4 separate regions of the Homo sapiens genome follow, and all the other regions are linked to region 1. The links come from fine-mapping of genetic effects on gene expression. A gene starts in region 1. Each other region holds a variant in brackets. All regions are shown on one strand. Distances are from middle to middle. Region 1 holds the start of ADAP1 (ArfGAP with dual PH domains 1). Region 2 overlaps ADAP1 (ArfGAP with dual PH domains 1). Region 3 overlaps ADAP1 (ArfGAP with dual PH domains 1). Region 4 overlaps ADAP1 (ArfGAP with dual PH domains 1).

Region 1 (4,816 bases):
CGTGCCGGCCACCCCAGCCCCCATCAACACTGGAGTGGCTCCTTGTCACCCAGCTGGGCCACAGCAGGTACAGGAGGCCCCAGAGCAGCTGGCATCAGCAAAGAAGCATAGAGCCCTCGAGGATGTGCCATGGGGTCATGGGGGGCTAGGCAGCCCCCTGCCTCCTGACACCGCCTGTTCCACCCTGTGGCCACAGCCCTGGGGAGCGGGGACAAGCAGAGCGGCCGGGTGTGGCTCATGTCCCCTAAGACAGCTCCCTTTGCAAGGCATCAGTCTCCCTGGCTGTGAAATGAGAGTGACCCCTCACAGCATCCCCCCTCCATGGCGCTACCCGACAGAGGAGACAAGTCACTGAGGTCATGGACAGATTCTGAAAAGGCAGAGGTGCGGCCCTCTACCCGGCAGCGTGGGGCATAGGGACGGCAGAGAACAGCTCTGGGGTGGGCCAGGCTGGAAGCTTAGCAGGTGGGCCGGGCACACCTGCACCCACTGGGAGGGGAGGACCACTGAAGGACCCAGCAGGCCAAGGAAGTCCCCTCTTCCTCCTGCCAGGCTGGGAGGCCCAGAGGGTGGCTGGAGAGGGGCCCTGAGTCCAGAGAAGCTGCTCCCAGGCTGTGTGGCCAGGGAGCAGAGGTTCAGAGGCAAGCCCAGCTCCCCTCCCCGTGGGCCACAGCAACCCCAGGCCAGGCCCTTTCCCACTGGCTTTCCTGGGGAGCGTTCCTGAACAGGAGGAAATAAAGGTCTGTGGGGAGAGAGTCTGGGGTGAGCCAGCCCAGGGGGCCACCCCCACCGCACCATTGCACGGGCCCTGTGGCCGTCCTGTCTCAGGAGACCATGGAAAGGCCGTGGGTCCTGCCTGTCTTTCCAGAAAAGCCTGTCGCTATCTCCCCTCTGGGACACCCCAGCTCCTGATGTGGCCTTTCCAGCCAAGCTGCAGCTGGACAGCAGCCACCACGACCTGGGGCTGGCAGAGACCCCTCCATCCCAGAGGGAATCAGGGACACCCCTTTTTCCGGGGTGTCCAGAGGCTGCATATTGAACCAGGGCCTTGGAGGCAAATGCAAGGTCTTCCCCCGCTCCCTCCCTGGGGGCCTCAGTCACCGCCGGTGAGTTTAGGTTTGTTCCGAGGGGCTTAGACTATTGGCCCCCAGATTCCTGGTGTGCCTGGGGTGGCGGGACTGCTCCGGCGGGGCCCTCTCTCCACAGCGCAGCCGGCCTGGGGCTGACAGCTCCCGAGCAGGGCAGGGCTGGTCTGGGCACTGGGCCCCGTTCACAGCCAATGACAGGACCAGTGGCCTGGAAGGGAGGGACTCCGCGCCTTTGGACTCCAGTGCCTTGAAATCCCACAGACCTGGGAACCGAGTCAGGGATGCCCGGCCGGGAGAACGAACGGGCGGGCGGCGGGTGGACCAGGACCTGCGTCCGGCCCCACCTCTCCCAGGCCTCACCTGTCCTGGCGCCCGCCCCGGAGCAGCCAGGTGCAGGGAGCCGGGGGCAGGGGCGCCGCTCACACCCAGGGACCCCCGGTGCGGGAAGGGCGTGAGGCATGACGTCACCGCGAGGTGGCCCCGGAGCCGGCGGACCCCACAGCCCAGCAGAGACCTCCGGCTGGCGGCCCGTTCCCTCCCTGCAGCCAGCCCCGATTTCCTCTTTCTGTGCGGAGCCCGAGCTTTCGCAACGCGGCGGGCGGTCCGCGGTGACCGTCAGACACGCAGCCCGGCGGGGGAGGGGAGGCGGCGGCAGGGGGGTTTCCGGGGGTCCTGGGGGGGGCCCCCCCGCTGCGCCCGGCCCGGGAAGACGTCCGGGTCCCCGCAGGTGCAGCCGGGCCCGGGCCCCATCCGAGCGCCGATCCGGCCCGGTGTTCAGCGCCGCCACCCCCGCGGCGTCCGCGCTCCCCCGCCCGGTCCCCGGGGCCCACCCAGGACCCGCCCGGCACCCCGCGCCCACCCCGGACCCACCCGGCCCCGCGCCCACCCGGCCCACACCTACCCGGGGCGCCGCAGTCCGCGCAGCGCGCGTTCCCCGGCCGCTGCAGCAGCTCCAGGACCGCCCTGCGCCGCTCCTTGGCCATGGCCGCGATGCGCCCGCGATGCCGATGCCGGGGCCGGGGCCGGGAGCGTCAGCCCGGCTCGCTAGGGCCCCGCGCAGGCCGCCCGCCGCCGCCGCCCCTGCGCCATCCCGGGCGGCCTCAGCCCGCGCGCCGGTTCCGCATTCCCGCCGCCCTCTGGGCTCCGCCGCCGCCGCTCGTGTCTCCGCCGCGGTCGCTGAGCGAGTGCCGGCGCGGGGCCCGGGGCGCACGCTGCGCTCTGGCCGGCAAGGCCCGCGGGCGGCCCCCAGCGGTGCAGGCGAGCGTGTGGCCTCCTCCCTCGGCCGCTCCGGCGCCCCCAGCCCGCGCGCCCCGGGGACCCGCTGGGAAATCGCCCGCCGCCCGCCCCCCATCCGCGCGCAGCGTCCCACCTGCCTGGGCGCGAGGCCGCCCCAAAACCTGGCCGGCCTGGGTGGGACCCTCGTGCCGCCGCGCGCGGTGGGACGGAGCCTGCACACCTACTGTGGGGGGCGCAGAGGGCACCTGCCGAGCCCCCCAAGACCATGGGCATGGGGGTGCTCGTGGAAGGCAGGTGTGCGTGTCCTGTGCTACGGACCAGGACCAGGGCGCTCACACCATCCCTGCCTGGGAGGGACGGCCAGCAGGTGACAAACGCCAGCGTCCCAGGGCACTGAGGCCACACAGGGCCCAGACGGAGCCTCCCCCTGAGACCCACCCAGCCGCCCACCACCCACAGATGGGACCCTCTGGGCACCCCTCCCACTCAGGCAGGCTGAGGGGCCCCGCCGGGACTTCACATGGGGGCTGACAGGTAACAAAAAACCTGGTTTTGATGTCACCTCTTCCCAGACTCGCGTGCCCTTCCTCTGCACACCCCAGCATCTTTTCAAATTCTTTCCATTTTCTTCTTGCAGGGTTAATGCAGTACACCCGGCTGAAAACAAACTGGAACATACCAGACTGAAAAAGGAAAGCCTCTCCCCACTGCCTTCCAGGCAACCACTGTTAACAAATTCCTCAGCACCTTCCAGAACGAACGTCTGAGGCCTGTAGCCTTTCATTTATTTATTCATTTATCGAGACAGGGTTTTGGCTAACGGCTGTAATCCCAGCACTTTGGGAGACCCTGGCGGGTGGATCACTTGAGCTCAGGAGTTTGAGACCAGCCTGGGCAACATGGTGAAACCCCGTCTCTACTAAATACAAAGAAATTAGCCAGGCGTGGTGGCGCATGCCTGCAATCCCAGCTACTTGGGAGGCTGAGGCAGGAGAATCGCATGAACCTGGCAGGCAGAGGTTGCAGCGAGCCGAGATTGCGCCATTGCACTCCAGCCTGGGCAACAAGAGTGAAACTCCGTTTCAAAAAAAAAAAAAAAAAAAAAAAACCAAACAAACAAACTCAAAAAAAGTTCAACTGAACCATGACTTGTTCACCCAGTCACTGGCATAGGGGCATTTAGAGCGTTTTGAATGCATCAGAATCATGGTCTACACAACCTCATCTTTGCAAGAGTTTTGTGTGGATTTGCTCTCAAAGTGGCATCGCTGGGGCAATGGTATGGGATGTGGAATGGCCTCCACTGAGGCTGCACTGACCAGAGTGCCACCAAAGGCACCTGTCCCCCTGCTCCAGCTGACGTGGAATCATGGAGCTGCTTAAGCTCTGTCTACCTGAAGCAGAACGCGGCAGCCCGTTTTGGTCTGTGTCTCTGGGATCTGTGCCCTGTGGCATCACGTGCTCTTTCCCTGTAACCGTTCACATGGGTCTTTCTCCTCCCTCAGACGGGAGGCTTTGGGGTGGGGACAGGTGGCATTTTCATCTCTGGGTCCCTGTGCCAGGCTCGGAATCCACCACACAGCATGAGCTTGGAGAATGTCGCCTAATAAAGACAGACGAACATTAATAGCAGCAGCTCAGCACTAGGTATTAGGAGAAATAGCCTGACTTGTATTTTCTATTTTCTTTTCTTTTCTTTTCTTTTTTTCCTTTTTTTTTTTTTTTTTTTGAGACAGGGTTTTGGTCTATCGCCCAGGCTGGAGTGCAGTGGCACGATCTTAGCTCACTGCAACCTCTGCTTCCTGGGGTCAGGTGATTCTCCTGCCTCAGCCTCCTGAGTAGCTGGGACCACAAATGGGTGCCACCATGCCCAGGTATATTTTTATTTTTTGGTAGAGACAGGGTTTCACCATGTTGCCCAGGCTGGTCTCGAACACCTGACTTCACGTGATCTGCCTGCCTTAGCCTCTGAAAGTGCTGGGATTACAGGCCTGAGCCACCACGCCTGGCTTGACGTGTATTTTCTTTTTTCTTTTTTTTTTTTTTGAGACAGAGTCTTGCTCTGTCACCCAGGCTGGAGTGCAGTGGTGCGATCTCGGCTCACTGCAAGCTCCGCCTCCCGGGTTCACACCATTCTCCTGCCTCAGCCTCCCCAGCAGCTGGGACACAGGTGCATGCCACCACGCCCGGCTAATTTTTTTGTATTTTTAGTAGAGACGGGGTTTCACCGTGTTAGCCAGGATGCTCTCGATCTCCTGACCTCGTGATCCGCCTGCCTAGGCCTCCCAAAGTGCTGGTATTATGGGCGTGAGCCACCGCGACCGGCCGACATGTATTTTCTTATTAAAGCCCCATTTTCAGCTGGGAAGACTGAGGCACGGGGAGGTTCGATCCCTTGCTGGAGGCCACACACCTCAGGACTGGAATATACATAAAACAATATAACAAAGCAACACACCCTAACATAGCCGTTACCCAAGGTCCCCAAAGAC
Region 2 (4,816 bases), 46 kb before region 1:
GAAGGGAGAAAGGGAGAAAGGGAAAGGAGAAAGGAGAAAGGAGAAAGGGAAAGGAGAAAGGGGGCGGGAAAGGGGACATGGACAGGGGACACGGGGGACATGGACATGGGGGACGGGACATCGGGGACGGGACATGGGGGACAGAGTACATAGGGGACATGGACAGGGGACATGGGGGACAGGGGACACGGGGGACGGGACAGGGGACATGGGGGGACATGGGTCAGATGGTGATGGTGGATGGTTGGTGAGGGGATATGACAGTGGACCAGCGCTGTTGGCTGCAACCCTGGCCCAAGCCAGCCTGAGGACGGCCTGGATGAGCGGGACTCCAGCTGTCCTTTACTGGCCCCCAGGGACCCTCCCCATCCTGAGTGGACATGGCCAGAGCCACCATGGGCAGAGGCAGGGCTGGGTCCAACCTCGTGCTGCCCGGGAGGACCAGGCTGGCCTCCTCCCTCCTCCCTCAGCCGTCCGCAGCTGCTGGGTCCAGGTGGTGCCATCCCCTCTTTTTTCAGGAAAGCTCATCTGAGGGGAGTCCAGCTCAAGCCCTCATCTCCGCCTGTGGCCTCACGCACACCACACACAGCCACAGAAAAGTAGCCCGGGCATCCCCCTGGGAGCCTAAGCACCTGGACACGCCACCTTCTATGGCAAAACACACCGTGCACGGGTGGTTAGGACGCTGCTGTGGCAGACGATCACAGGGGAGGGAGGCAGAGATATGAGGACAGGAGGGAAGGGGACGTGGCCGTGGAAACTGAGGCCAGAGGGGGCCCCAGAGCCCAGGAGCACCAGGGAGAGGCCAGAGGACCCGTCCTGAGCCCAGAACCAGCTCTGCCCACTCCGAGTCTCGGGCCCGTGGGATCGTCCTGGAGCTCTGCCAGAGCTGTGGGAGAACAAACACGTGTGGCTTCACGTCACTGAGCTGCGGTCAGTGACCCACGTGTGGCCACTCAGAGGGGCGTTCCCATCCCCCCCAGGCCCCGCTCCCACTTCTGCTCCCTGTCCGTGGTTCCTATCGTTGCCCGTCCTTTCTCCTGCTCTGGAACTCTGTGTCCTGCGGACTCAGATGCAGCTTCTTCTATGGCCCTGGCTGTCCCGCCCCAACAGCATGTGGCTTGCAGCATCCGTGTCCTGGGCTCCGTCTGCCAGGCCTTGGGTCGCGTGCAGGTCCCGCCGTTGGCAGCAGCTGCGTGGCCAGGGTCGAGCAGGTCCTCAGTGGGTGCAGACTCTCCTGGGATCACGGGGCCGTCTGCCAAGCATCCCCAGTGGGCGCCGCCTCTCCGGAGGTCGCGGGGCCGTCTGCCGAGGAGCCGTCTGCCGAGCATCCGTGGCCCCTCCAGGGGTCGCGGGGCCGTCTGCCCAGTGTCCGTGGGCCCTTCCCGGGGTCGTGGGGCCGTCTGCTGAGCATCCGTGGGCCTGTCCGTGACCCCTCAGTGACTTCAGAGAGCACTTGCTTGGGGACAGCATCCCATCCTGCTGGCCATGTGGCCTGGGAGCCCCGGTCATCTGAGGGCAGGGGCTGCTGACCTACGCCACAGGGACGCGAGGGGGCTGTGGGCTCCAGGCGGGGCTAAACAGCCCCCTGCAGCAGCCAACAGGCCAGACAGAGGCTCAGATTGCAGACACCGCCCATCAGCCCTGACCACCAAAGCCCCCTGCTCCCCAGCATCCCCTCCCCAGCTCAGACAGCCCCATCCCGACACCAGAGACCAGGGGCTATTTTCTCTGCTGAGATGCAAGCCATAAAACGCCTGGCGTTGGGGAGGGGACAGCTGGTGCCCTCGGGGAGGGGGCCCTGGGCTGTCTTGGATGGTGCCAGACGGGGCCTGCTCCCCTCACTGCCCGGAGCTCCCCGCTCCCCAAGCCTCTACAAGGCTGCTGCCCCAGCCCCGTGCGCACAGCAGCAGCCAGGAGCCCCCTTCCCATGGAAGAACCCCCTTCTCCTGCTTCTCACTGTGAGAGCGAGGCCACCAGTGTCCCTCAGACCCAAGTAAGGCCTGCTCAGAACGCCTGTTGACTCAGTGAGCCCCTGCCCAGGCACAGCTGGGTGTCCCCACGGCTCTGCCTCCGACATCAGGACCTCTTTGGACGCGGCGCTTCGTGGCTGAGGGTGGACGCCGAGAAGTGCCCGGGGAGGCATCGCAGCAGCGGGCCCAGCGGCGCTTCCCGGCCTCTGCCGCTCACGGCCTTGTGTGCACCCCGGGGAGCCTCCAAGGCGTGCGTGTCCGTGTCACCAATGCAGACGACAAGTTTGGGCCACCTCGCCCACGGGGGTGGAGCTGGCTGGGTCCAGTGTGTCGGTTCCACAGACCCCTGCCCAGGACACAGCGGGGGCCCCTTCCAGCGACCGGGCTCCCTAGGCCACAGGGTGGGGACGCGCCCCTGCCATGCCCGCCGCGCCCAGCAGGTGACAGCAGTGCTCC[G/GA]GAAGCGCGCAGGCCGCGGGGTCTGGGAGGCCACTGCCCCTCTGCACGCGCGCAGCTGCTCCGGTGTTCTCGGGGTCCAGACGCCAGCGGGAACCCCGGTCCTCCCGACAGCAGGCGCCAGCGGGAACCCCGGTCCTCCCGACAGCAGGCGCCAGCGGGAACCCCGGACCTCCCGACAGCAGGCGCCAGCGGGAACCCCGGTCCTCCCGACAGCAGGCGCCAGCGGGAACCCCGGACCTCCCGACAGCAGGCGCCAGCGGGAACCCCGGTCCTCCCGACAGCAGGCGCCAGCGGGAACCCCGGTCCTCCCGACAGCAGGCGCCAGCGGGAACCCCGGTCCTCCCGACAGCAGGCGCCAGCGGGAACCCCGGTCCTCCCGACAGCAGGCGCCAGCGGGAACCCCGGTCCTCCCGACAGCAGGCGCCAGGACGCCGCATTCCAGGGGCAATGACGACGCAGGAGTGTATTTCAGGACGGCGCTGGCCACGGTCCCGGACGCGCCCCACGCCCAGTCCAGACCTCAGGCTGAGCCTCTGCTCTCCCCATGCCTGGCCAGCCCCTTGGCCTCGCTGGGGAGGGCCAGGACCTCAGGGGCCTGCAGCCCCCAGTCGGCACCAGCAACAGCCAGTGAGACGGGGCTTCTCCCCACAGAGCAGCCCCTCACACGGCAGCGTCCTGGACAGCCGGGTGGGCTGTGGCCAGAAATGGCCATTTTCTCTTAAAGGACTCGTGAGTCCTGGGGCAGGACTCGACCAGTATTTATCAAACAGCTACCGCGTGCCGCGCCCTGCTGTGAGCTGGTCCCGCTGTGTGTCGGGTCCTATGGTGTGGGGTGGGGGGGGTTCTACTGCACACCAGGCCCTACTGTGTGCCGGTCCCACTGTGTGCCAGGTCTTGTCCCACCTGTGGGGAGCTGGGTCCAGTCCACACCCCATGCCCTGCTCAGACGCCTCTGAGGAGCCCTTCTGCCCACCGCACGGCTAAGAGCAGGAAAGACGTTCAGCATCGCCATGACCCACGAGAACGGCAAAACCAAACCAGTGTGCACACACAGGCGCCCGACTGTGGGCGGGGACGCCGGCCCTTCCACGCTGCCCGTGGGGATGTAAGGTGCCCCAGTCCCTGGAAAGCAGCCAGGCCGTTTCTTCCACCACAGTGAAGCGCGCACATCACGTGCCTCAGAGAGAAGTGAAATCCGAGGAAACAGGAACAGCCTTCACATAAAGCCCACACCCGTTTACGAGGCTTTTTTTTTTTTTTCCCCACCCAGGCTGGAGTGCAGGGGCACTATCACAGCTCACTGCAGCCTTGACCTTCCGGGCTCAAGTGATCCTCCAGCCTTGGCCTCCCGAGTAGCTGGGACCACAGATGCACGCCACCACACCCGGCTAAGTTCTGTATTTTTTTGTAGAGATGGGAGCTCACTGCGTTGCCCAGGCTGGTCTCGAACTTCTGAGCTCAGGTGACCCTCCTGCCTCTCCTCCCACCATACTGGGGTTGCAGCGTGAGCCCCACGCCTGGCCCGAGACTGCTGGGTCTTGGATTTGTCAGAGCTGGGACTGCACTCTAAATAGGATATGCAAAGTAGATGTAAATCACACCTCACGTATGTGATTTATATGCTAATTGTCTTGTAAACTGGGGCAGGGAAGCACGTGGCCCTGCTCTGAGTGACAGCTCACAGGGTGGTGGACCCTCTGGGGTGGGAACTGCATCCCCATATCTCATGGGGCCTCTGGCCTTCCACAGGGAGGGGTGCACCATGGATGGGTGGCCTCTGAGAACGGGGCCGAGGCCCTGATCACTGCACCCCGGCCGTCCCTGTGAAGGGCCTGGACCTGGCTTCCGGCCTTTGGGTCCTAGTGGCTCCTGCCCTCCCTCAGGAGGCAAACACCGGAGCCCACGGCAGAGCAGTGTCTCCTTGCTGGGTAAGGCCTTAGAGTTGAAGGCCTCCTCTGTGAGCCCGCACAGGGCTCCGTCTCTCCCTGCCTGGCCCGTCCACCCACGCTCTCCGACCCATTAATGCACCTTCTCCAGGTTGGTGCGTCTGGGGCCGGCAGAGGCTGAGAACCAGCGGGCCGTATCCTGCGGAGGGCTCCAGGTCCCAGCTTCGCCCTGCGTGGAGCTCTCTCTCCAAACAGCCAGGACAGGGAGGCTTCCCTGTTCCCAGGGGTGAGGCCAGAGGGTGGACGAGGGCTCCTGGGGTCAGCTCTCACCCTGTTCCTATTCTCATATAGCCCCCAGCATGGGGCCCGGCCCCCGACAGGCCTGGAGAGACCCCCCCACTCACACACGGGTTCACAGTTTCCACAGCGCCTTCCTGCCCAGAGTGACGTGTGGATGCCCCCATCCCCGCCAGGCTGCCCAGGCTGCAGGAGGGGCCACCC
Region 3 (4,816 bases), 39 kb before region 1:
TTTTTTTTTTGAGACGGAGTCTCGCTCTGTCGCCCAGGCTGGAGTTTAGTGGCGTGATCTCCACTCACTGCAAGCTCCACCTCCTGGGTTCACACCATTCTCCTGCCTCAGCCTCCCAAGTAGCTGGGACTACAGGCGCCCGCCACCACACCCAGCTAATTTTTTTGTATTTTTAGTAGAGACGGGGTTTCACCGTGTTAGCCAGGATGGTCTTGATCTCCTGACCTCGTGATCCGCCTGCCTCAGCCTCCCAAAGTGCTGGGATTACAGGCGTGAGGCACCGCGCCCGGTCCTCCCCTTTCTCTTTACTTGTTCCATTCTTTATGTATATGTCTATGGACTTGGGGGTGTGTACCTTGCTCCCCTGTTATAATCCCCTTATACCATCTTCCTTTTGTTGCTCAAATTACTCCCCCAGCTTTAGCCATTAAAAGCTCCTTCAGAGGCCAGGTGTGGTGGCTCACGCCTATAATCTCAGCACTTTGGGAGGCCGAGGCGGGCGGGTCACCTGAGGTCAGGAGTTCCAGACCAGCCTGGCCAACATGATGAAATCCTGTCTCTACTAAAAATATAAAAATTAGCCGGGCGTGGTGGGGGGCGCCTGTAGTCCCAGCTACTCAGGATGCTGAGGCAGGAGAATGGCGGGAACCCGGGAGGTGGACATTGCGGTGAGCTGAGACCGCACCATTGCACCGCAGCCTGGGCAACAGAGCAGGAAAAAACAAACAAACAAAAAACTCCTTCAGAAAAGCCCGGTGGTGATCCTTCCTTTTGGGTGGCCTAACAGAGGGATGGAGTGGGGCTCCGCCTTCCTCAGCCATGGTCCTGGGTGGCGTGGCCCACACACAGGACATCTGGGGCCCCCGCCCTGTGAGAACAACCCGGCCATTTCCACCCACAGCCAAGGTGCAGGCTGTGGGCACTGGGCGTGGCACAGCCTCTAGGAGTTCTTGGTTCCGGCTCATTCCAGGGCAGACCTGCAGCCACTCCTCTGTGCAGAGCGGGAGCCACCTGGCCCAGGCCTCACCTGGCCAACGTGGGGTTGTGGGTGTGGCAGGCCCTTCCCAAGCCCCGAGCTTCCCCTTCCTCCCGGGCCCTGCCGCAGGGACTTCTATATTTCCCTGTGGTCGTGAGGTGTCGCCACTGCCGTGATAAAGGGCTCTGGTGGCAAAGCCAGGGAGCAGGGCAGGAACGCCGCCGGGAATCCCCAGTGCACTCTGGGAGGGGTTGGGAGGCCCGGGAACTGCCAACTGGCGCTGGAGCCCTGTGGAGGAGGCTCTGCCCACGGGGCCGCCCCAGACAGGAGGACACGTCCTCTCCTGCTGCTGCACCCACCCAGACATGGGCTCAGGGTGGGGGCCATGGGGAGGCTCGGGGGGTCCCTGAGGTCTAACCCTGAGCACCAGATGGACACCTGCTCCCTCATCCATCCAGCAAAGGGCAGAACCTAGGGTTCCAAATAGCAGCGGGCAGCTAGGTCTGTGGGAGAGGTGCCCTGGAGCCCCTGAACACACAAGGAGACAGGCAGGGCATCTCACAGGGCCCTGGAACCCCGCCCTGCACAGCACCCAGAGACAGCAGCCTGGAGCACAGACAGTCACCGCCTGCTGGTCCCCAGGCACTTGGCCGTCTGAAGCAGCCAGGCCTTCGTGCCTACTGACCAGGCTGCAGGGGCAGGGTAGAGGGGAGGCTTCAAGGAGGGGTGAGCCCTGCCCTGAGCAGGTGGGTGTCAGTGGGCCCTGAGCACAGGGCCATACGACTCAGCACCTCTGGGTCCCTGGGATCCCAGCAGCCTCCCTGCAGCCGGGGCTCTGGGGCCCGAGGCCCTCTGGCTGGCGTGCCTGGTGCCTCCTGCGCGACCTGGAAGGTGCCGTGGCCCAAGGGAGACAGCAGCCACACACTCTGGAGCAGCCGCAGTCTACGACCCCATGCCCTCTGCAAGAGGCTGCCACCCTGCTGCCAGGTAACACCTGGCCACGGCACTCACGGCACCTTCACAAAGGGCCAGCCCTGCACTCACACCTGCACACCTCGCCTGTGCATCTCACCTGTGCCGCACACACCCGTACATCTCGTCTGTGTACCTC[A/C]CCCGTGCCTCATGCACACTGTGCACCTCCCCACCATCCTCACACCCATCCAGGGGAGAGAACAGAGGGCACAGCCCATGCGGCCTGGTCTCCACAGGCAGATCATGAGCCTGGTGCTGCGGACGTGGCCGCCCCGCCGGGCCTGGTATGAGAAGCGGCCATTCACTCAGCGTGGGCTTCAGAGGCCGGCAGGCAAGGCCAAGGCCTTGGGCTCCGACCCTGCGAGCAAGCGTGTGCCTGAAAACCTCTGCCCCGACTCTACCCTGCTGGGAGGCCTCTCCCTCCCTCCAACCCCTGCCCGAGGGTCACACGGGAGGCTTTAGCTCATCTCAAATGCTCTCAAGGGAATATCTCAGACAACAGCAAAGGCAGGAATGGGATTCCAGTGGGGCAGGAACAGGATTCCAGTTGGGCAGCCTCGGGCCTGGGGCAGGAGGCGTCTTGGGTCACCAGGCCTGTCACCACCTCCTGGCCCTGAGCCCAATGACACCCATATACCCCTGCAGAACCTACGCCCACTGCCGACGAGACGCTGTCTGCCACCCGCCTGCAGAACCCAGAACCCGCGCCCACTTTCCACGAGACGCTGTCTGCCACCCGCCTGCAGAACCCAGAACCCGCGCCCACTTTCCACGAGATGCCGTCTGCCACCTGCCTGCAGAACCCACGCCCACTGCCCACGAGACACTGTCTGCCACCTGCACGCACCCCCACTTCTGGAGCCCAGACCTGATCTTCCCCAGAAGGGCCACTCCAGGGGCCAGAGGCGGGCACGCCACCTAGGGCGCCACGTTTCCCAAGTCACATCCCGGCCCGACCAGTCAGAGGTGACGAGACAGGGACTTTTTCCAGCACTTCTGTGAGCCACACCTGACCTTTCCTGGCAGCCCGGGAGAGCAGGGATGTAAAACCCAAACTTGCCAAAGGAGGTGGCCACCAGGAGGATTGGTGCCAACCTAGAGACGCAGAACTAGGAGATAGAGGTGCTGAAACCAGGTCCCAACGACACCAGCTAAACCCCTAGATCAAGCTGTGCCCTGTTATTCCAGTCAATCCATTTCCAGTTTTGCTGACACCCAGTGAAGTTGGATTTTCCATCCTTTACAACCAGAGGGTTCTGATACAAGAACAGACACAAAACTCAGTCCTGTGGTCACGCCAGCCCAGCCCATGCCTGCCTCTGAAGTGAGGCCACGTGCCACCTTGCTACAAATTGCTAAGATGTTTCTGCCGAGGGAAACGGAGGGGCTCTGGGGTGATTCTTTGGGGGTTTAAGGCAGGAGTGGAGCGAGGGGTGTGCTGGGTGCTGAGCAGGTCCAGGTGCCCGCGTGTTCATCCCCTGACCGTTTCTTGCTCTCTCCCTCACACACACAGGGATTCTTGAGAGGAAGAAATTGCTGTCTGGGTAGACAGTAATTGAATCAGCGCCTGCACAGGCTGGCTGTGTGCCAAGTGGGGGTTGGGGGGGCAGGAGCTGCCCTGGAGGAGGGCAGAGCCGACAGGACCGCTGCATGAGACCCCAGCCTGACCTGGGGAGGTGCCTTGCTCAGGCCTGGGGCAGCCTCCCACCGGTCACCCCTGCTCACCCCACGCCGCTCCTGGGAGAAAATCCACGGTCCTGACAGAGCCCAGGGAGGTGCACGGGAGGGGGGCGCAGTGCCAGCTCTACCGGGGAGGTGCACAGGAGGGGTGCGCAGTGCCAGCTCTACCGGGGAGGTGCACGGGAGGGGGGCGCAGTGCCAGCTCTACCGGGGAGGTGCACGGGAGGGGGGCGCAGTGCCAGCTCTACCGGGGAGGTGCACGGGAGGGGGGCGCAGTGCCAGCTCTACCGGGGAGTTGCACGGGAGGGGGGCGCAGTGCCAGCTCTACCGGGGAGGTGCACGGGAGGGGGGGCGCAGTGCCAGCTCTACCGGGGAGGTGCACGGGAGGGGGGCGCAGTGCCAGCTCTACCGGGGAGTTGCACGGGAGGGGGGCGCAGTGCCAGCTCTACCGGGGAGGTGCACGGGAGGGGGGGCGCAGTGCCAGCTCTACCGGGGAGGTGCACGGGAGGGGGGCGCAGTGCCAGCTCTACCAGGGAGGGCTGGGAGGGGTTGGAGCACTGGGGGTCAGGGGCTTCTCCACTGAACCCACCTACAACACCAGGACTGTGTTCAGCCATTTCAGGGCCGCCTCTCTTTCACATATTTTGAGACAGACTTTTGCTCTGCCGCCCAGGCTGGAGTGCAGAGGCGCAATCTCGGCTCATTGCAACCTCCGCCTTCCAGGTTCAAGCGATTCTCCTGCATCAGCCTGCCGAGGAGCTGGGATTACAGGCACCTGCCACCACACCTGGCTAATTTTTGTATTTTTTACTAGAAACAGTTTTGCCACGTTGACCAGATTGGTCTCGAACTCGTGGTCTCAAGTGATCCATCCGCCCGCCTAGGCCTCCCAAGGTGCTTCTTTTATTCTTGGGGTGAGATTCACAAATACGATTCATCTTTTTTCTTGTTACAGACACACTCTCGCTCTGACGTCCAGGCTGGAGTGTAGTGGTGCAACCTTGGCTCACTGCAGCCTCCGCCTCCCAGGCTCAAGAGATCCTCCCGCCTCAGTCTCCCAAGTAGCTGGAACCACAGATGTGCGCCAACCACGCCCAGCTAATTTTGCATTTTTTGGTAGAGTCCAAAAAATGAGCAACATGGGGTTTCGCCACGTTGCTCAGGCTGGTCTTGAACTCCTGAGATCAG
Region 4 (4,816 bases), 33 kb before region 1:
GAGGGAGGGAAAGAGATGGGGGAGGGAGGGAAAGAGATGGGGGAGGGAGGGAAAGAGATGGGGGAGGGAGGGAGAGAGCCAGGGAGAGGTAGCCGGGAGGCCCCACCCCACCCGGGTGGCCTCACCTGCCGAGTAGGGCTCCTGCTTCTCCGGGTAGATGAACTCCTGTCGCTCGTACTTGGCCCGGATCCACTGCTCTCGAAGGAGCCTGTGGGGAGAGGAGAGACTGAGCCACTGGGCCAAGGCGGCCTCCGACCCAGCACACGCCGCTCTCTGGCCCGGACCCTGGACATCTCAAGAGGCTCATAGGGACCCCCGGCAGACTCGAGCCGCCCCTCTGGGCACAAGATCCCGGAAGAAATGCAGGGTCAGCCTCCTGCCCGGGACGCTTCTCACTCTGATATTAGTTTATTGGTTTCTTGTGCGTTCGGCCCCCGGAGCATCAGGCCTCACGTTCTGCACAAGCGTTCCCGGTGGACGGGCTGGTGCCTCCCCTCTCCTTCCCACCTTGGCCTCAGCTGATGCCCCACAGGGCTGGGGTACAGGGGTTGAGCCAGGCCCCCCCACCCCGAGTCACACGCCCCTGGGCCCTCCCCGACCCTCCCCACCTCGTTGGACCGGATCTGGGAAGTGGCCGCGGCGCCGCCCTCCACCCACCGTGCTGCCACCTTGCACCCCCCGTGCCGCCCTCCACCCGCCGTGCCGCCCTCCACGTGGTTCTGAGACACAGGACGGAGCTATCAGGGCACCCGTCGAGGTCAGGAGGCGTCCGGGGCATCAGGAGAAACTACCGGCAAATACCCAAGAATCCAGGAAGACCCGGGATGAGGAGAAGCCCCCGAGAGTAAAGCCCGGGACGAGGGCCCCCCACGGCACCCACTGAGCCCAGACATCCCTGCCCAGAGCCACCCACCACGGCCTCCCCATCCACCGTGACTCACTCGAGTGAAGCCAATACCATTGCAGAAACCACGACCCACACACAGGCCCGGCACGGCCCAGGTGCACAGGCAGCCGCCCCAGCCTTTTCCACTCCCAGGGAATTACGCGGCAAAGAACAAATAGGAACCCTGTGGCTTCCTGCTGGGCCCACGTGAACAGCCTTGGAGACTGGGCGGGAATCCTCGCCCACAGGATCTGATGGGTGATGGGTCCCAGCTGGGTCTCTGGCCCCTGGCCCCAGGTGTGTGTGTGTCCCCCACCTGCTACAACGATCACCCCAAAATTCGGTCCCCGAAAGCAACAGAAATGTATCATCTCGGTCACGGAGGCCAAACGTCTGAGATCAAGGCGTCGGCCGAGCTGGTCCCTCCAGGTGTTCTGGGGAGAATCTCCTCCAGGGTCCCTCCCACCCCTGGAAGCCGCCAGTGCCCCCACCTCGGCGCCGTCCTCACCTGGCCTTCCCTGTGGGGTTTGGGCCCACCCTACTCCAGGACAACCTCACAACCTTATCTTAACCTGAAGACATCTGCAAAGATCCTACTTTTCTTTCTTTTAGAGACAGGGTCTCACTGTGTCTCCCAGGCTGGGGCACAGTGGTGCGATCACAGCTCAACGCAGCCTCCAACACCTGCACTCAAGGATCCTCCTGCCTCGGCTTCCCGAGTAGCTGGGCTAGAGGTGTGCACCACCACGACTTGGTAATTTTTTATTTTTTGTAGAGGTGGGAGCTCACTCTGTTGCCCAGGCTGGTCTGGAACTCCTGAGGCCAATCCTCCCACCTGGGCCTCCTACAGGGCTGCGATTACAGGTGTGAGCCTCGCGTCCGGCCCCTATTTCCAGATGAGTTCACCTTCACAGGGGCGGCGGGTTAGGACTTTAACACGTCTTTTCGGGGGACACCGTGCAGCTGCCTGAGCCGCTCCGGCTGTGTGACCACGGAGGAGTTGCCCCCTAGCACCCAGCGTCCCATGACCCCAGGGTCACACAGCGGCCTCTCAGAGTCACGGGAGGACCGAAGGCCGCATGTGTGGAAGCCGGGGGCCTGTGGATGAGAGGCAGGTGCCAGGGACGGCTTTGACAACCACGCCTGCCAACGGCCCTCAGGGCGGGGCACCCACAGGGTCGGCAGCCCTGCCCTGGTGCAGAATGGGCCCCCAAGGCTCACACCCGCACACAAGGGCATCCCAGGGCCTGGCACAGAAGCTTCCAGAAGCAGCAGCAGCAGGAGGAAGCCTGGGAGTGAGCACCAGGAAGTCGGGGGCTGGACCCCATCCTGCC[C/T]AGCGGAGCCCTCCGGAAGCCCCTCATCTCCTGAAAACCAGTACTGCCCGGAGCCCTCCCGACTCCCACAGCCCTGGAGGGGCCGCACTGACACCCCACGTGGTCACGAGGAGGTGGGCTTCGGGCCACCTGGCAGCCGGGACGGAGAGCCACCAGGAAAGCTCCAGCCACACCTCAGCCCACGCCCCAGGAAGTGCCCCAAGTTCCAGGGCTCAGGGGAGCCAGGCTTCAAGGACCCCTAGGCCACCCCTTCAAGGCCAGGGCCTCAGGGTCAGGTGGGTCCCCTCAACGCAGAGCAAAATGTGAGCTGGGGGCAGGGGGCCGGGCAGGTGCTCAGGGCGACTGCCTCCCCTAGGTGTGGACTCACAGGGGAAGACGCTCTGAGCCCCAGAAGCCACTTCCCCACAGGGCTCCCCCAGCCCAAGATGCCATGGGAGACCCCTCCCCGCTTTCCCCAGGACGGGTCCAGTGGCCACTGTGACCCCCATAGCGGGTGCTGTTCACACAGCTGGCACGTCCATCCCTGAGGGTCCACTCCTGAGTGTGCCTTCTGCCCGAGTTCTGCCAGTTTCCACCGCATGGAGTTCAGGACACCATCAACACCCTTCCTGGAGGCTTTGCCTCTTGCGAAAGTGACCCCCCAGGGCCCCCGGCTTTGCTTCTACGTGGTGGACCAGTGGCTCACCCAGATGGGTTTTTTCCCTTTTTATTACAGGAAAATAGCCCGGGTGGTGTTCACGCCCCCGCCCACACCCCCGCCCACGCACCTGCCTCTCAGCAACACCCCCACCCCCGCCACCCCCGCCCCCATTGTCTATCCTGGGTGTTTCCGAGGCTGCTACCACCTGAACCGCGACCCCATCCTACTGGGAGCCCTGACCCCCGGGCCTGAGTGTGCCTGTATTTGGAAATACCGTGGTTGCAGATTAGTTAAGATGAGGCCACAGGAGCAGGGTGGCCCCCAATCCAACGTGCCCGGTGTCCTTAGGAAGGGGAATTAGGACACAGACAGGTACGCAGGGCCCACGATGTGAGGAAGCACCCCGGAGAGGCCTCGGGAGAAGCAGCCTTGAGCCTCCAGCCTCCAGAGCTGGAAGAAAGTAGATTTCTGTTGCTCTGGGCCGCCGGGCATGTGGTGCTGTGTTCCAGGAGCCCCAGACATGCATGCAGAGCCCTGTCCAGCCCGGACACCTGCTCCACGGGGGGCTTGCTGGGGCTGAGGGCTCCAGGGCTTCGCTGGGATGGGCAGAGAGGAGCCCTCCAGCCGGTGCTGCCAGCAGCCAAGGGCTCCTCCCACAGCTTCCCTCACTCGCCCTGATCACCCCTCACCACACAGGAAGCAGGGAGGGGCCGGTTTCCACCCAGAAGTAAAACCAAGCAGAGCGGCCGCACGACTTTCTTTCCCCGACGTCAAGATAGAAACTGGAGAGCTCTGAGGGTGACACAGGAAGAGACGGGTCCCGGCCTCTGAGTCACAGGCTGGTGCTGAAGATAAAGAGGGCACACGAGACCCTCTGCCCTCCCCTGCGGGTGCAGCCTCCCCTCTTATAGCTGGGCAAACTGAGGCCCTGGGCCTCTGCTTAGCTGGAGGTGGGCACGGTGCTCGACCTGCCTGGAGGGACCCCAGTGTGTGCCGGGAGGCCGCAGGGCATGGCGTGGGGGGCCTTCCAGGACCCTGCTCCGGACGCTGCCCGCCACTCTTAGCTCCTGCGAAGACGCCACCCGGACATCTGTGCAGCAGAGCTTTCCCCTGAAGACCTTCAACTCAGACCCGGGCTTGTCCAGGCTGCACGGAGGCCGTGGGCACCAGCGCTGCTGGGGCTGGGAGAATCTTGGTGGGGGCAGACGTGGGAGGAAGGTGGACGAGTCCCCTGCCCACCTCGCCAGGCTGGACGTTTGGGCCCCACGAGCCACAGAGCCGGACCACAAAATGGCAGGATGTAGGCACCCCCCGCCCTCCAGGTTACACTGCAGGTCCACGCTGCACCCCCCGCCCTCCGGGTTACACTGCAGGTCCACGCTGCACCCCCCGCCCTCCGGGTTACACTGCAGGTCCACGCTGCACCCCCCGCCCTCCGGGTTACACTGCAGGTCCACGCTGCACCCCCCGCCCTCCAGGTTACACAGCAGTTCACGCTGCACCCCCCGCCCTCCAGGTTACACAGCAGGTCCATGCTGCACCCCCTCCCCGCCCTCCAGGTCCACACTGCACCCCCTGCCCTCCAGGTTACACAGCGGGTCCACGCTGCACCCCTCCCCCACCCTCGAGGTCCACGCTGCACCCCCCACCCTCCGGGTTACACTGCAGGTCCACGCTGCACCCCCCGCCCTCCGGGTTACACTGCAGGTCCACGCTGCACCCCCCGCCCTCCGGGTTACACTGCAGGTCCACGCTGCACCCCCCACCCTCCAGGTTACACAGCAGGTCCACGCTGCACCCCCCGCCCTCCAGATTACACAGCAGGTCCACACTGCACCCCCTGCCCTCCAGGTCCACGCTGCACCCCCCGCCCTCCAAGTTATACTGCAGGTCCACACTGCACCCCTGCCATGCCCCAGCATCCACGGCTCATACAGGGATTCACACCCCACCCCA

The links.
Region 2: its variant is fine-mapped to the expression of ADAP1 in whole blood (TOPMed, PIP above 0.99).
Region 3: its variant is fine-mapped to the expression of ADAP1 in whole blood (TOPMed, PIP 0.99).
Region 4: its variant is fine-mapped to the expression of ADAP1 in whole blood (INTERVAL, PIP above 0.99). The same link has a PIP of 0.9 or more in atrial appendage, thyroid and unexposed skin.

Annotation. Positions count from the first base shown.
Region 1 is chr7:952,407-957,222 of GRCh38, forward strand. ADAP1 (ArfGAP with dual PH domains 1) reads right to left here and starts at 2,274. Exons shown (of 11, transcript NM_006869.4): 1 at 1,990-2,274. The coding sequence starts at 2,071. LOC124901569 (a long non-coding RNA gene) reads left to right here and starts at 2,448. Exons shown (of 2, transcript XR_007060178.1): 1 at 2,448-2,858; 2 at 2,962-3,084. RefSeq lists enhancers at 724-1,335, 2,558-3,167 and silencers at 1,461-1,670, 1,961-2,450, 2,470-2,625, 2,481-2,580.
Region 2 is chr7:906,596-911,411 of GRCh38, forward strand. All of the region lies in intron 4 of ADAP1 (ArfGAP with dual PH domains 1), which reads right to left. Among named protein-coding and RNA genes, the nearest start is that of GET4, 32 kb to the left of the region's middle. RefSeq lists an enhancer at 1,107-1,805 and a silencer at 2,320-2,539. The variant G/GA (reference allele first, on the strand shown) is at 2,430.
Region 3 is chr7:913,209-918,024 of GRCh38, forward strand. All of the region lies in intron 4 of ADAP1 (ArfGAP with dual PH domains 1), which reads right to left. Among named protein-coding and RNA genes, the nearest start is that of GET4, 39 kb to the left of the region's middle. The variant A/C (reference allele first, on the strand shown) is at 2,088.
Region 4 is chr7:919,843-924,658 of GRCh38, forward strand. It overlaps ADAP1 (ArfGAP with dual PH domains 1), which reads right to left. Exons shown (of 11, transcript NM_006869.4): 4 at 126-208. Among named protein-coding and RNA genes, the nearest start is that of ADAP1, 32 kb to the right of the region's middle. RefSeq lists enhancers at 3,058-3,117, 3,708-3,757. The variant C/T (reference allele first, on the strand shown) is at 2,221.